Homo sapiens: one gene and its partner. The protein of the gene in region 1 interacts with the protein of each later gene in a biochemical or structural test. Each region holds a gene or a part of one and is shown on either strand. Other genes may lie near its edges.

The links.
Region 2: the proteins of MSX1 (region 1) and PAX3 form a complex in vitro, tested with the Homo sapiens proteins (one study listed by BioGRID).

The regions. Positions count from the first base shown.
Region 1 is NC_000004.12:4,857,388-4,861,292, reverse strand, and holds the start of MSX1 (homeobox protein MSX-1), read right to left. Parts: upstream 1,629-3,905; 5' UTR 1,394-1,628; coding exon 925-1,393; intron 1-924. UniProt on the Homo sapiens protein: Acts as a transcriptional repressor. Capable of transcription autoinactivation.
Region 2 is NC_000002.12:222,297,099-222,301,003, reverse strand, and holds the start of PAX3 (paired box protein Pax-3), read left to right. Parts: upstream 1-2,005; 5' UTR 2,006-2,388; coding exon 2,389-2,473; intron 2,474-2,630; exon of another isoform or gene 2,631-2,857; intron 2,858-3,790; coding exon 3,791-3,905. UniProt on the Homo sapiens protein: Transcription factor that may regulate cell proliferation, migration and apoptosis. Involved in neural development and myogenesis. Transcriptional activator of MITF, acting synergistically with SOX10.

The DNA of each region.
Region 1 (3,905 bases):
AGCGGCGACAACCCAGAGCGGGGCCACCTTCTCCGGCCATTAGGCTTAGGGAGGGACTGGCCTTTCAAAGACGTTTAATCCCCAGATAAAAATCATTCCTCAGCATCACGCCATTGAAATCTGGCTGCTATTATGCCGAGCAAAATAATCGGAGGAAACGAGGAAAACTTGGGAATTTCCCGTGCTCCTGAAATATCTCCGAGCGTGTTCTCTGAGTAGAGCAGCCAGGGGGCCGTGAGGCCTTGGAGCGAACCGCCTTGGGCACCTGGAGTCCACTTTAATGGCTCAGTCCTAGACGTTTGGGAGCTTCCCATAGGATTAGCGGGGGCGCCTTCCCCTAATTGACTTGGTGCCCCGCCCCCTCCACTGGAACCTGAATGTCCCCACCCCTGAATCATCCATCCGCCCAAAGCACCAACTATCTGCCTCAAACTCAAAGGGCATGGGGAGGTAGAATTCTGTAGGAGCTTCGGAACCTCTAGGCAAAGAGGTACTTGAAAGGGAAGAGGGGCTGGGGGACACCAGCTCCTACTGCGAGAAAGTGAAACTCCGGGTGCAGGGAAGATACCGCACCACACACATTCATCCGCTGGGGTGAAGCCGATGAAACAGAGTTTGGGATCAGATGAGGGATCATGGACCCCTGAGGTCGTTTGGTGGGGGCAGGAGGACAGGGTGCCCAGACATCGGTGTCCTATCCGTTAACTCCCACCCGCAGCGTCTCTGGGCCAAGGCGAGGAGGTCTGGAACCTTCTTCCTGGGTGGGAGTGGAGGGAGGCGCAAGACCCGGCCTTGCAGCCCACGGCTCCCTAGCACCGGCTGCAGGTACGCAGGCGCCGGAGGCCACCAGGAGCCCTCGGGTCCCACACCCCACCCGGCCCCCACCCGGCCCCCTCCCTCTGCGCCTGGGTTCTGGCTACTCACTGGCCGGCGGCGGGGAGAAGCGGGGGCTCTGCATCCACGGGGTCCTCTCGGGCTTCTCGGGGCTCTCGGCTTTGACGAGCGCATCTTCTGGCAGCTTGAGGAGTCCCCCCACCGAGAAATGGCCGAGCGGCCGCGGCGAAGAGGGCGCGTCCGGGGCTCCCAGCGACCCCGGCGGGACGCCCAGTGGCTGCGCCGAGCCACCCGCCGCCTGCACGCCCTCGGAGGGCGCCAGGGCGCTCTCCTTGGCCCCCGGCTTCCTGTGGTCGGCCATGAGCGCCTCCACGCTGAAGGGCAGGAGCGAAGGGGACACTTTGGGCTTGGCCCCCTCCTCGTCCGCGCCCATGGCGGCTGCCGTGGCCGCGGCGGCGCTGGGGGCCTGGCCCGCGCCTCCCCCCGCCGGCTTGCCGAAGGCGGAGTCCTCCACTTTGACACCGAGTGGCAAAGAAGTCATGTCAGCAGCCGGGGCCATGCAGAGCCGGGCCCCCCCTTCTGCCGCAGCACTGGCCAGCCGCCGGGCATGGGCTCCGGGCGGGCTGGGAGCGCGGCCGGCCTCTGCGAGCGCCCGGGGCCCTGGCCGGGCGGACCCTCCCGCGCGCGCCTCCCGCCCCTCCCCAGCAGGCCAGCTCCGGCGTGCTGGGCCTGGCCTCCGGTCGCTGCCGCCGCGCAGGCAGAGTTCCCGGGAGCACTCGCCGGCTCCGGGCCCTACCGCGGCTCCCCAGAGAACTTGCTAATAAGGCGAGGCCAGCGGGGCGGCGGCCAATCAGCGCGCGAGGGGGCGGGCCCGGAGCGATCCATTGGGCCGCGCTCCTGGGGACTCGCCCGGAGGCGCGCTGGGCCTGGGGGCACGCAGGGCAGGGCCCAGGCGGCGGAGGGCAGGGGAGGAGAGGGGGTGCCCGGGAAACTTTCCTCTGCGCTGAAGCCCAAGAGGCCCTCTCTGCGGGAGTCCCCTGGGTCTCTATCTTTCTGTGTTCCCGGGGGATTTTCCCTTGTTCTCGTTCCTTCTCTTCTGCCCTCCTCTCCTCCCCTCCCCTCCCCTCCTCAGCCCTCTTTTCCGCTCCTCTTTTTTTCCCCGTCCTTGTTTCTCTCCTCTACTGCTTCTTTTACCTTTCTCTTTAGTCTGTGGCTGGGTTTCCCTGTGCCCCCCTCCACTGTCTGACCCCCCCTCTTCTTCTACCACAATAATTTGAGTTGAGGTTATTTCTTACACATTCCTTTTATATATAGTTTTTAAAATACGCATGGCTATTTATCCTAGGAGAAAGACATACTATTAACTTCTTTTCAAGAAACGAAACAAAACCAAACCTTCATTTTCTTCCTGTTCTGAAATCTTGTAAACTTTACCTCGAGGTAAAAGTGGGCCTTTGTCTCTAACTTAGAGCTGGAGTAAACCTTGCGGGAAGAAGCTAGCTTCCTGTAGTGCCAAGGATGTGAGAATACGTAAGATTATCTAGAATCTGCAGTCGGTTTTCATACACGATGTGTATTCCCCCCCCCCCACCCTCGCTCTGAACTTCTGTCCCAAGGGTCACAACACCTATAGCGCCCGGGCGGGGAAAGGAGCTGCCAGATCCTTTTGATATAGAACTTACTGAAATAAAACCAACAGAATCGTCAATGAAACACCGATCTGGCCTTAAGGTGACCTCAAACAACGCGTCCTCGGAAACAATGACATGTCCCTATCTCTGGGCCGCTGATCCTGGAGGGGAGAGGCACATTTGGGGGAGGGGGCTGGGAAAAGAGGAAAGTTCCTGGAGGTGGACTCTAGTGTGGGACTTGAGAACTCTTCTTTTGCCAATTTCGGAGAAAACGTGATTTAATGTTTGCTGTTAATAATAATAATAATAATAAAGACAGAAAAAATGAGTTGGGGTCAGGGGAGATGCAAGATCTGCCTGAAGCGGGGTCGGGGCTTGGCCATTTTCTGCGCCTGTCGCTTTATGGCCTCTCCTCCTGCGGCCCAGGCCAGCGGCTCTCAGGGAGTGAGCGGAGGTGATTGGCGGCTCACTCGGCCCTGCCATTGATGACTGCGGGGTTCTAATCTCCAGGAAACACAAGGGGCTGCCGTGGCCATTTAGGGGTAATTATCCGAGCGCGGAGGGACAGCGAATTCCCTCGACTTTTAACTGGGCGCAATAAAAGCTGTAGATTAGGGGCGTCCAGATTAGGGAAAATGAATTAGAGCGGGAACTTTATTATCCGGAAGACGTCCGGGGTCTGGCGGCAGGGGTCGGGCTGCGGACGCCGGAGCGATTGGTAGCCTCCCATCTGTCCACAGGCCGCCGAGATATGCTGAGGCCTGGGGAAGTTCGGGAATACCGGCATCTGAATTTTACGCACATCTCCAGGTTTCTAAAGGACCCAAGACTGCAACTCAGGCACTGGGCAGTGGTTGGGGCTTCTAGCTCGAGTTGGGCCGGCTGGACGCGCGGTGCACCGGGGCCTCCGGAGGTTTGCCCGAGAGGGTACAAGGATAGAAGACCTTAAGACCCAATTTTGAAGCTCAGCTCGCTGAGGCTGAGCAAGGCTGTAGGGCAAATACCTTGCTGGTAGCCCAGCCAGGACAGCGAACAACAGCATCTTCCTCTTCTTCCTCTTCTTCTTCTTCTTCCTCTTCCTCTTTTTCTTCCTCTTTTCTCCTCCTCCTCATCCTCCTCTTCCTCCTCTCCTCCTCATCTCCTCCTCCTCCTCCTCCTTCTTCTTCCTCTTCCTCTTCTTTGAGACGGAGTTTTGCTCTTGTCGCCCAGGCTGGAGTGCAATGGCGCGATCTCAGTTCACTCCAACCTCCGCCTCCCAGGTTCAAGCGATTCCAGGACGGCGAACTTCTATTGCTCCCGTTCTAATCAAACTCTCGTCAGAACAACCCCCTCCGCACCCAGCCAGAATCTCCCTTTGTGGCCAGGTTAAAGGGGGAGAGGAAACAGAGGCCTATCTGCTTTTGGGGCCATTTAAAAAGCGAGCAGTGTGCCTTTTCGAGT
Region 2 (3,905 bases), on another chromosome or scaffold:
TCAAAAACAAATGAGACTCAGCTCTAGATGTTCTTTAACTGCTCGCGGGGTCCAAGAGTTTATTTTAGCTGAGAGTTGAGCCTACTTTTGCCTTCTTGAAATTACACTTCTGGTACCTCCTTCACACAGCAATTACCGCTGACCCCAGAAAGTGCTCTGTCGACTCTGCTTAACCTTTGGGAAGAAGAAAACTTGGAAAAAGTCTAGCTCTCAAAATGCTATCGCTGAGAAGTGGCTTAAAACGTACGGACACAGGCTTTGGTGGCCCCAACGCCTTAAAAAGAAAATGAGAAAATTTTCCCCTTGAAAAATTGAATCATTTAATGTAAAACCAGGTTAAACAAGGCACATGCCTCCTTCATGGGTCCAGACATTTCTGGGAGTCTCCTGAGACCTGTCTCCGTGGCTCTGAGGGTCAACCAAGCCTTCTGGCATCAGGCAGGCTGAAAGCTTGCCTGGTTTCCCCAATGGTGAGTGGGTTTTTAAAGGGCCAACTTGTGGACTGCTGAGCGGCTATACCCCACACCCCCCTACATCTTGCCTTCTGAGTTTGCCTTAATTAGGGAATGGGGAAGTAGGGTTGGGGGCCCGAGTTCACGTCAAAACTGTCAAAGGAGGTGGGGGAGGGGGACAGAGAGAGAGGAGTGGAGAACTCCCTCCAGGGGCAGGAAAAATTCAAAAATCATAAAAGGAAAAGGGGGAACTTGAAGCCCAGAAGTCATTGTTTCCTTTATTTCAAAGGGAAAAACCTGCCCGATTCTCATCCTTTTGATTGATTAAGGCCCTGAATACCTCGCGGCCCCGGAGTGACAGTCCCTGAATAGGCTCGAGCGAATAAAGCGCAGTGCAGAGCGCGGGGCTGGCACTCGGGGGTGTAAAGGAGGCGAGTTCGCTGGCACTTACCAAGTTATAAATAAAAGGCTATGCACAATGGTACCTTCTCTAAGGACAGACAGTCTTTACAACACTCCTGGCGTCATATCCTGCTGGGGACACTTCAGCTCCTAGCCAAGACTTCGTTCCTTTTATTTTTCCAGCAGTTTAGTCTGAATGCCATAATAAATTCCTGAGAACAAACGCTGAACCCGGGCAAAACTTTAACATACAGACACATCTCTGTCGACGCATCGGGGATCTATATGTAGAGATTTAGAACCGCAGCTTGCCAGAGCGGTTTTTACACCAAGAAGAGGAGCCAGGTTTTTTTCTGCACCCTCCCCCATACCCCCAGCCTTCAACTAACGAGTGCTTGGGCCTAGCGACGGCTGCCTGTGCTTCACATTAGCCCCGCTTGCGGACGGAGAAGACAAAAGAACATCAGCGCACCCTGGACTCCTCCCAGGAGGAGCCCCATCGGGAGGACCCCTTAACAAGCCTAGGCCAAGGGGCACTGACCACAGGAAGGAAAGCTAAATATGTCTGGGGCCCCAGATGCCTTCTTATTGGAATTGTGCCCCCTCCAGTGGCAGTAAGCCAAGAGAAATGAGAGCGAGACCTACAGGTAGAAAAAATGAGACATAGAGAGAGACACAGGAAATCACAAGAGGAATAGAGGCTGAGCGAGACACACACACAGAGGCACAGAAAGAGACAGAGAGGGAAATAGAAAGTCAAGGAAAGAGTGATCAGAGAAAGACACACACACACACACACACACACACACACACACACACACACACACACACAGAGTGACACAGACAGAGAGACAGAGACAGAGAGACAGGAACTTCTCCGCCCTCAGCAACTGCCATCTCCCTGGGGCTGTCTCTCTCAGTTTCCACCGGGCCAACCTTCTCTCCTGGGCAAGGGGCGCAGCGCGGGTCCCCCTCGGGGCCAGCAGAGGCCTCGGCACCACCAGAGATGGGAAGAGAAAGTGGTCGCTGTTGCCCAATCAGCGCGTGTCTCCGCCACCCGGGACGGTCTACCCGTCGGCCAATCGCAGCTCAGGGCTCCTGACCAAGCTTTGGGTAAAAGAACTAATAAATGCTCCCGAGCCCGGATCCCCGCACTCGGTGTCACCACAGGAGGAGACTCAGGCAGGCCGCGCTCCAGCCTCACCAGGCTCCCCGGCTCGCCGTGGCTCTCTGAGCCCCCTTTTCAGGGACCCCAGTCGCTGGAACATTTGCCCAGACTCGTACCAAACTTTTCCGCCCTGGGCTCGGGATCCTGGACTCCGGGGCCTCCCCGTCCTCCCCTTTCCCGGGTTCCAGCTCCGGCCTCTGGACTAGGAACCGACAGCCCCCCTCCCCGCGTCCCTCCCTCTCTCTCCAGCCGTTTTGGGGAGGGGCTCTCCACGCTCCGGATAGTTCCCGAGGGTCATCCGCGCCGCACTCGCCTTTCCGTTTCGCCTTCACCTGGATATAATTTCCGAGCGAAGCTGCCCCCAGGATGACCACGCTGGCCGGCGCTGTGCCCAGGATGATGCGGCCGGGCCCGGGGCAGAACTACCCGCGTAGCGGGTTCCCGCTGGAAGGTAAGGGAGGGCCTCAGCGCGCCGCCTGGATCCCAGGGCCTGGGACCGGCTGCCTCACCCCATCCCCAGGCTCCGCAGGCTCCTTTGGTGCTTCCAGGAAGCCCATTCCCTGGGCACCCCACACCCCAAGAAGCACCAGTCGGGGGCGAGGACCTACTCGATTTCCTTTCTGCAAATGGAGCGCGCTGCTCTCTGCAAATCCTGGCGGAGCTGGGCGGTCAGGCCTGCGGCGAGCCGGGGAGACTTGTCCCTGTTGTTTTGGAAATGCCGCGGTGGAGAAGGAGGTGAACCGGCTTCTGAGCGGCAGAAGCAACTTCTCCGCAATTTGTCCATTCGAAATTGTCTCGAAGTTGTCTCGAAATTGTCCCGGCTGCGCCCACACTTGTGAAACATATGTTAGTTCAGGAAGTATTTTTTTTTTTTTGCCCTGCAAAGTTGTGGTGGCTAACGCCGCGCCATTGTGATTGGAATTTTTAGAATAATTAAATAAATTAGAATTCTATGTATCTCAAATAGCATCTAGAAGTTTCTATAACTTGTTTAGGAATCGCCTTTCCGTCCACTTGAAGATTCTGGGAATCCCGGGGAGGCAGGAAGTCTTGCAAGCCTGAGCCGTTTTCAATGGTTTTCCAGGTTAGGGCGCCCCAGCAGAGATGCTCATCGCCCCCGCCACCCACTCCCTTCACACCCAGCCTAGAGTAGAATGTAACACCCAGAGCAAGAATGGGGGCTGGGGGCCCAGGAACAGCCCTGCCGCTGCTGTGGTCTCTGTCCCAAGATGTAACAGGTGACACAGGCACTGCTGCTTGGGCCTCCTTTCTGGACCCTCTTTGACCCTTGGCTGCTGCACTTTTGGCTAGAAACCCCAAGGGCTATCAGCTGGCCCAAGTCCCTTAGAAAGGGAGAGATCCCAATTGGACAGGGATCGGTGGGAGCAGAGTTCATCAAGGCCAGCTCCTGGGTGAACTTCTCTTCGCCAGGAGGCTGTTTCTAGAGCAAGCTAGACTCTCTACCAGCTGCAGGGTCTCCTAAGTTGCCACTCCCCGGGCCCGAAGGGGAAGACGCTTTCTCTGGGGAGAATTATTTTGCCCCATTTGCTGTCTTTACACAAGATTACATGCGCTATATTGCTGAATAATTTGAACAAATGTGATTGAAAGGAGGTCTGGGTCTGGGAGTCCGATGTCGAGCAGTTTCAGCGTCGGTGCTGTAACATGAGGATAGGACAGAAGACTGCGAAATTACGTGCTGCTGTTCTTTGCTTTTTATTTTCCTCCAGTGACTTTTCCCTTGCTTCTCTTTTTCACCTTCCCACAGTGTCCACTCCCCTCGGCCAGGGCCGCGTCAACCAGCTCGGCGGTGTTTTTATCAACGGCAGGCCGCTGCCCAACCACATCCGCCACAAGATCGTGGAGATGGCCCACCACGGCAT